Regions from separate parts of the Homo sapiens genome. Here region 1 is linked to region 2. Evidence: fine-mapped expression QTL. A gene starts in region 2. The other region holds a variant in brackets. All regions are shown on one strand. Distances are from middle to middle. Region 1 overlaps RYK (receptor like tyrosine kinase). Region 2 holds the start of RYK (receptor like tyrosine kinase).

Region 1 (4,390 bases), 78 kb before region 2:
AATAAAGCTGCCACATGAACAAGCAACTAAGTATTTGGTGTAACTGCATTCTGATGATGGCAGATTCTTACATAAAATGTGTGAACTCCTGCAAAATGTCATAACCATAAAAATAACTATTTCTGATATAATTTGAAATGTTCTGCCTAACCAAACCATGTATCCTCAACATGAACTTTGCCAGCTAATACCCAGCTGAAGAGACTCAACGCTCTTGGAGCATCTTGCTTGGAGATTTATTATTAGCTATAGCCTCATTTGTTGAAAGTATATTATCTAACTTAATTTTCACTCTGTAGGTCCTACAAAATATTTAATCATAAATGTTACAAAAAAATAATTCCTATCATCGCTTAATTATACAATGGTATACCTACACAGAAATAAATACGTTAAATTAAGTAATACAGGCTGGGTGCAGTGGCTCCCGCCTGTAATCCCAGTGCTTTGAGAGGTCAAGGCAGGAGGATCGCTTGAGCTTAGGGGTACAAGATCAGCCTGGGCAACACAGCAAGCCTCCATCTCTACAAAAAATAAAAGAATTAGCCACGTGTGGTGGCACACACTGGTAGTCCTAGCTACTCAGGAGGCTGAGGCAGGAGGACCACTTGAGCCCAGGAGTACAAGGCTACACTGAGCTATGACTGTACCACTGCACTCCCACCTGGGCAACAGAAGTAGCTAAGGAAAAAAAAAAAAAGTAATACATATTTTGGGGGCCTCCACTGTGCAAGCAAATAGCACTACTTGCCATCTTGCATACCCCTTTGAAATACAAGCTATCAATGCTCCTTTTTCTAAGAGAATAATAAAAAGATTTCCAACCTCTTCAAATTACACGAAATACTTATAGATTATCATCTAAGAATTATCTTCCATTTTCTGCCCATCGAACTAGTTTTGGTTCACCACAACAGCCATATCATTTCAGCAAAGGCAACTATATTTCAATAAATAACAAAATAAAAATTTTAAATCAACCACTGGAAATAAAAAAATTAACATCCCAAAGAGACGAGTGAATCCATCTTTTAAATCAACTACGGAATAAAATTTTCAAAGTAAACACTAAGAAAAGTTTACTTCACTTTTCTACATTTAAAAATGTTTAGATGTGAGCTTTTACTAAAGGAGTAAATTTGAGATCACACTGCTCTAATTCAACTGATATTATGTTTTAAAATTATGTTCTACAACCAAAGCCAAACCAATTCCTCCTGTCCCCTTTCCCACTCCATGAAAATAGCTTTGCTTAATGTAGAGCTGGTAAACAGTTCCAGCTACAATTCAGAATTTCTGAATAAAGATTTGGCAACTCTAAAACCAAAAACATTATCAAAGAGTAGAACTAGTCCTTACTGTCATTCAGTACAGCAGCTGTGCATTGGTCTAAAATCAAACTCTGCTTTCCCTTCGTATGTCATTTGAAAAATATAAAAATCAAAACCAAAAATGTAACCTTTCTCTCCCTAAAAAAAAGCCCAGGTTCTCATTACGTAGAGATTTAAAAAGAATATAACCTGCTTTGCATATTTGTACTGCTTTACTTGGTATGTTTAACTTCTAGACATTAATGCTAGAGAGAGATTTTTTCTTTATCATCAGAGCTCTGGAAAAACAGACCAGGACTAGTACCCCACTGCTCTATAAGCTGAACCCTGGGATTCAGTATCCAAGAGTCTGGCTTTATTTCCCTCATCCTGCCACCCATCACCCACCATGCCCGATGCCTCTCTGGCTAGGAGAGGCTGTGGACAACATGAAACAGGTTGTCATTCAGTGTTAGCTTCTGAGACTGCTCTGTGAAGCAGATCACATCCCTTCTCATAATCATTCATATTTACTTTGTTCATCTCACAAATGTCAGATAAATTGTTTCTTTGAGAATAGTTTATCTTGAGTTAAAACAAAGTATTTTGAAGATATATAAAATGAAAGACCTTGATTTTAACAAAATTAGCTAGGCATGGTGGTGCGCGCCTATAGTCCCAGCTACTCAGGAGGCTGAGGCAGGAGAATCGCATGAACCCAGGAGGCGGAGGTTGCACTGAGCTGCAATCGCGCCACTGCACTCCAGTCTGGTGATAGAGCGAGACTCTGTCTCAAAAAAAAAAAAAATTTAAAAATTATATAAGTAAATTGCTCATTCACATTAAGTGAACACATTTTATCAAAATACTTGGTATGTAAAAGGAGCAATATATCTGTATTAGTCCCTTCTCACACTGCTATGAATAAATACCCAAGACTGAGTAATTTATAAAGGAGAGAGGTTGAATTGACTTATTTCTGCAATGATGGAGAGGCCCCAGGAAACTTACAATCATGACGAAGGAAAAGAAG[A/C]AGCAGGCACCTTCCTCACAGGGTGGCAGGATGGAGTGAGTGTGAGCAGGGGAAATGCCAGACGCTGATAAAAGCATCAGATCTCGTGAGACTCACTAGAACAGCATGGGGGAACCTGCCCCCCATGATCCAATTATCTCCACCCTTGGTCTCGCCCTTGACGTGGGGATTATGGGAATTCCAATTCAAGATGAGATTTTGGGTGGGGACATAGCCAAACCATATCAATATCAAATAGCACATAGTTTCTAAAAAGGAAAAAAAATTTATTTAGTAGTTAGAGTTAATTAAAGGAATTTTCCCCTTTCTCAAATTATTCTCATTTTAAGGATTTTAAATTAGAATATCAGTTTTTCAGTAAAGAAATCTTAGATCATTTCAATTATTGACTGCAGTGAACTGAATGGTAGCCCCAAAGATATGCCCATGTCCTACTCCCTGAAACTTGTAATTACCTTACATGACAAAACGTGATTAAGGATCTTGAGAGGAAAAGTTTATTCTGGATTATGTAAGTGGGTTCTAAATCATATGTATCCTTTTAAGAGGGAGGCAAAGAGAGTTTGAAAGACGTATGTGAAGAAGAAGGTGGTATGAACTTGGAACAGAGGGATGGAACCGCAAGCCAAAGAATGCCAACAGCCACCAGAGCTGAAAGAGGCAAGGACTGCTTCTCCACTAGAGCCTCTGGAAGGAGCCCAGCCCTGACTACACCTTGATTTCAGACATTTGGCCTCAGAAGTGAACCACGAGAGACTATATTTCTATTGTTTTAAGCCACCAAGGTTGTAGTAATTTGCTACAGCAGCCACAGAAAACTCATACACCGAGGAAATGAGTATATACCAATTAATATAATTAATTAGCGTACAGTAATACATGATTAAAAGATTAATCCTTAAAACATACACACTTTGAAACAAAAGAGTAGCCCTAAATTTTAAAATATAGACACACAAAATACAATGATACAGTAAGCCCAATTCTTACAGTTGAAGCTTAGAAGCAAATTATTCTATAGGATTTTACATATAACACAAACAGATTATCACTGAGTGAACATATGTGGGACCCTATAAGCAGAAGTTTTACCTAATCCCTAAATATTCTGCAACAATAATAAAGTCTAACAGGCAAGAGACAGGAAAATAAATTACACTTAGTCTTCCAAATAAGACTAAGAAATCAAGTGACAGAAATTTTACATGGCTGTAAAATATGAACAAGTGAACGTGGCTTCTGAAACTGTACATCACAAAGGGCCCAACTATGATCTGGCTAAGTGGCAAAACCACCCAGAAACTTGACAAAAGGAAGAGGATGACGGGGGGATTTACAAATTTTATGAGCCATAACACTTAGAAGAGGTCACCTGAAAAAAAGAAAACATCTTTATGATCTAGCAACTATTTGGTCTGCCTCTTATATAAGAAAGAAATAATAATGAAATTACTGTAACTGCTCTGAGTCTCAAAATCCTCACCTTTAAAACTGGGATACCACAGCCTATCTCCTAGTGTTAATAGTGCTTCTGTCAATGGGCGTGGTGGCTCACACCTGTAATCCCAGGACTTTGGGAGGCGGAGGCAGGTGGATCAACTGAGGTCAGGAGTTCAAGACCAGCCTGGCCAACATGGTGAAACCCCGTCTCTACTAAAAATACAAAATTAGCTGGGCATGTGCCCATGGTGGCACACGCCTGTAATCCCAGCTACCTGGGAGGCTGAGGCCTGAGAATCGCTTGAACCTGGTAGGCAGAGGTTGCAGTGAGCCAGGATTGCGCCATTGCACTCCAGCCTGGGCTACAAGAGTGGAACTCTGTCTTAAAAAAAAAAAAAAAAAAAGTGCTTCTGTCAGAGCAGTACTGTGAGGATGAAATGAGATTACAAACAGTGCTGGCCTATGGTCTGGGTCACAGCTCCTCTCCATAAACTGGTTGACTGGCAGCTAATTACACTTGCTTTCTGGATAAAAATTTCCGGGAACAGCTAGCAGATTTTTTAAAAACCCAAAAGATAAAAATAGTAGAACATTTAAAAACAGAAAG
Region 2 (4,390 bases):
AAATTAACTGTGTGACCTTGAGCAAGTTACTTTAAAACCCCACTTTCCTCATCTCTACAATAGGCATAATGCCACCTACCTCACTGGGCCCCGAGAAAATTAGAAGAAATTATGTGTATAAAGCATGTAGGGGCAGGTATATGGCAGGAATTCAATGTCAGTCCCTGGTTGTCTTCTGTCTCCTACCTACACCTCTGACTTTGTTTACCCATGTAAACAAAGTCACAAGCTATATAAGTGCTTTTAACCAAAAAGCCTTTACAAAACCATGCATAATACGTTAATATTTCTAAAATTAATGTGATATGAGTCGTCTTGTATTATTTTTCCTAAATCTTAGTCTTGTGTTCCAAGTACTACCCCAAGTAGAGTTTTAATTCAGCTAAACTACATTCAGCTAACTCAGCTAGACTAAGAAGGATTAAGAATGAGCACGACTTCATAAAAAGAGCATTCTTCTTTGGCTAAAAACTGCAAATCCGTACATGTAATGTCTAAAGAGTCTGCTTTCAGTAATTCCATTTCTACACTGAGTCAATCTCAACACACCTCAACAAAGTCTTATTACTTAAAAAAAAATAGAATACTGACAAATAATGGATGCAATAGAGAATAATTTTTCCCCTCAAACACTCAGAAGCACCACCTTCAGATGAAATAAAGATACTGCCATAATAACAAAAGAATGCAAACGTCTAGGTACCAAGGACTTCCTTTTTGGGGGGTCGTTCCTGTCAGATCTTCCTCTAAGGGGTCATTTCCAGAATCCACAAAGTCCTAACATAAGACCCCAGCAATTTTTCAAATTAATTCCCCAAACAACAAAGCTAAGCAAGTAAATGGAACCACAAACCGACCCAAGACTAAGTTCTTGTTTCCCTTCAAGATACTCAAAAGTAGGAGAGTGGCCCAGAAGTACAGAGTCAGTCCAAACTCCCAACACACCCAATGCAAAAACCAAAAAGGTATTGAAACTAAAAAGGTCTGCTACCTGGCGATTCATTCACTAAAAATATGCTTAGAATCTAAGCATATGCTCCAAATCTACGTCCCAAGAGTTGGAGGCTGCCACGAACATTTGGTGCCCTTATAACCTCCCCTTCTTTCTCTCTCGTTTTTTTTTTTTTTTTTTTTTTTTTTGTAAAAGGGTAAGCACAGAGCGTGGCCTCTACTGGAGCATCAAAACCACAGCAAAGGGTTTGCAAGTTCAGTCTAAAACGTGAATTTCGAGATATTCAAAATCGAGGGCCCTAGAGTGACACACATAGAAAGCGTCAAAAAAACTTCGTGCAGCAAGGAAAAAAAGTTGTAAGGGTGACTGACTCTTCTAGGGAGAAGGGCTAAGGAGGCAGTGAGGAGGATGGGATGGGGTGAATCTGGGTCTATCGCGGCGGGGCAGCGAGGGCGGCACGAAGGCTGACCCAGAGCTGGGGACCGGGCAGGGACCACACCTCCCAGCCAGCACGGCAGGCAGAGACCGGGCCGCGAGGCGAATCCGGGCGCGGGGGGCGGGGAGGGTACTCGCCCGAGGTCCACGGCTCGCAGACTGATCCGCCGGCGGCCGGAAGCTGCCCCAGCCGGCCCGACCTGCCCGCCCCGGCCTCGGCGGCCCCACTCACCGATCAGCCGGCGCACCTCGTCCTCGCTCAGGTAGAGACTCACGCTGGGCCCCGCGGAAGCCGACTGCAGCTCCGGGGGCCGCGGGGCGGGGGCGGCGGCAGCGCCAGGCGCGGGCAGCAGCGGCAACAGCGCAAGCAGAAGCAGCAGCGGCGGCGGCGGCGGGGCCCTCAGGCCGCGGGCCCCCGGGAGGCAACTCCGGCCCGGCCGCCCCAGCCGCGCCGCCCCACGCATGGCCGCCGCCGCCGCCGCCGAAGAGGAGCGTCGGCCGCCCGCCGCACCGCCGCCCACCCCCGGCCCCGAGCCGCTCACAGCCCCGAGCCGGGGGCGGCTGCCCAGCTCATCGCACCGCCGGCCCGTGGCAGCCAGCAGTGGCTTCAGACCTCCGGAGCGCGCCGCCGCCGCCGCCTCCTCGCTGCATCGTCCGGAGTTGGGGGCTGCCCGCGGGACGCGCCCGTGCGCGCCGCCGCCTCCCCGGGAGCGCGCACGCACCTTTCGCTCTGGGCGGGCCGGCCTGGGCAACGCGCTGGGGTTTTAAAGTGCCTCGGCGGGCGAAGGGCTCGGGTCACCCTCTCCGCAAGAGCCGGTCCCCGCCCCACGCGGTCACTGCGTCTAATGTTTGCTTGTCTATTGTCTGTAACCCTCCTTTCCCGACGGACGGGCCAGGCTGGAGCCACCGGCCGCGCCTGCAGCTCAGTGGGCGCCCCAGGTCCCCGGAAACGCCTGGATGCGGCCGTTCTGGTTGCGAAAAAGCAGCATGCTTTCCTGTTTAGTGGGAAAACTCAAATAAATAGAAATCATCCTTTATCTTACCATCGGTGATCAACTTTATCGTTTCCGTATCTATTATTAGAATTTATACTACATATATTTGTTTTCCAGAAAGATCTTAGCACGCTTTACTAACCCTATTTTTACGTTACAAAATTTTATTTATTTTTATATTTTTATTTATTTATTTTGAGACGAAGTCTTGCTCCGTCACCCAAGCTGGAGTGCACTGGCACGATCTCGGCTCACTGCAACCTCTGCCTCCTAGGTTCAAGCCATTCTCCTGCCTCAGCCTCCCGAGTAGCTGGGATTACAGGCGCCCGCAACCATGCCCGACTAATTTTTTTGTATTTTTAGTAGAGACGGGGTTTCACCATGTTGGCCGGGTTGGTCTCGAACTCCTGACCTCACGTGATCAACTGACCTCGGCCTCCCAAAGTGCTGGGATTACAGGTGTAAGCCACCGCGCCCTGCCAAATTGTTATTTTTTTTATAATCGTTCTGCATCACTATAATCAACCTGCCTTTGGGGTTGTTAATCTGTGGTCCATACCAGGCTTCGACAGCCTTCCAATAATATGAAACTGTGTGCAAAAGTGTATGTGTCTCCGTGCGTATTTGTGTCCACGTCCATGTTTCTGTGTGTTGTGTGTATGCTTGATTGCACACAGAGAGGTGGTATGTCATCATTTGTTCTAGGGAGTCCTTGTGCCCTCAAAGAGGTTAAGAACTGCAGATAGACCTCGTGTACTTAAAGGCGGTGGAGCCAGCCAGTGCATGGACTTCCGGGCCTCCTGATGTATTTTTGTGAGCCGCCCACCATCGCGGTCAAACTTGCACCAGTGCCCCCTCTCTTGGTGAGGCTCCAAGGGCCCCTGCCCTGTCCTGGGACACCTCGTCCCTGCGGACAGGCCCCCGTCCTGACCCCAAGGCTCTCGCGGGGCCGTGCCTCGGGGAGCAGCTGCTCTGACAGCTAGGCCTGGCTTCGGGGCACAGTTGCTCCATCGCAGTGAGGCCCTGGGAAGCGGTTATTTTTATCCTCAGGGAAGGGTAGGGAAAAGGAGAGGCTGATAAGGAGGGAAGTGCTGGAACTTGATTTTCTCCCTCCCTAGCAAGATACACGGATTCCATTTAGAGATAGGCTGGCCTCAATTTGTCAAGCTTCAGCGCCTCAGCACAAAATCTTACACCCTTCATCCTGCCGGAGGAGGCTGAGAAGAGGAAGAGGGGAGGAAAAGTGCTCCATCAGAGAAGGCTTTTAAGCCACAAAAGTCAGCAAAAATACTTCTGTTGGGACAGCCACTGCTACCAGGGTTCTGCCAGGAAGGGCTGGAGGCTCAAAACATGTTGTGTGAACAGGAATCTCAATTCAGATGGGAAGCATTTTTTTAAAGGATGGCATATTCTTTGCACTTTTAAAAAAGCTCACAGTCCTCAAAGAATGAAACTCCTAGCTTCTCGAGGTTCTTTAATTACTAGGTCTTGTCAGTGACTTCTTCAGGCGGCCTATGATGTAAACAGCAGAGAGCTCCCACTCAGGCCTGGCTGGGTTCTGGTACTTGTTAATCCTGTGGTCTTGGGAAAATTAAACTCTCCAAGCCTTGGTTCTCTCATTCATAAAAATCCCGGGATAATGCCCGACTCCCAGGGCTTTTACAGGATTTAATTGGAGAGGGATACAAGTAAAACATCTAGGCAGACGCTGGGTAGGTGTCACACCTGTTGTTATTGTAATTACAAGGAATCCTTTCCCTTTAATGACCACTTCCTGTGAAAGTTTCATCACCAGTTACCTCCAAACAGTTCAAACCTGGGACCCTCATGAACCTCATTCAATAGCACTGAGCCTGGCCCAGAGCCTGAGCTCGATGAAGACTCGTGCCAGGCATCACGCTAGGCACTGGGGACACAGGAGCGAGCAATGTGCTTCCTTGAGAACTTTGATAAACAAATGTTTTCATAAATTCTACAAAGACAAGTTCTCAAAGTGTGGCCCCCAGAC

What was found. PIP is the estimated chance that this variant, and not a neighbour inherited with it, causes the effect. A credible set is the group of variants that fine-mapping cannot tell apart.
Region 1: its variant is the best candidate, but not a certain one, in a credible set for the expression of RYK in blood mononuclear cells (TOPMed, PIP 0.71).

The regions. Positions count from the first base shown.
Region 1 is chr3:134,171,176-134,175,565 of GRCh38, forward strand. All of the region lies in intron 13 of RYK (receptor like tyrosine kinase), which reads right to left. Among named protein-coding and RNA genes, the nearest start is that of RYK, 77 kb to the right of the region's middle. The variant A/C (reference allele first, on the strand shown) is at 2,344.
Region 2 is chr3:134,248,804-134,253,193 of GRCh38, forward strand. It overlaps RYK (receptor like tyrosine kinase), which reads right to left and starts at 2,056. Exons shown (of 15, transcript NM_002958.4): 1 at 1,620-2,056. The coding sequence starts at 1,851. RefSeq lists an enhancer at 1,297-2,075 and a silencer at 1,411-2,230.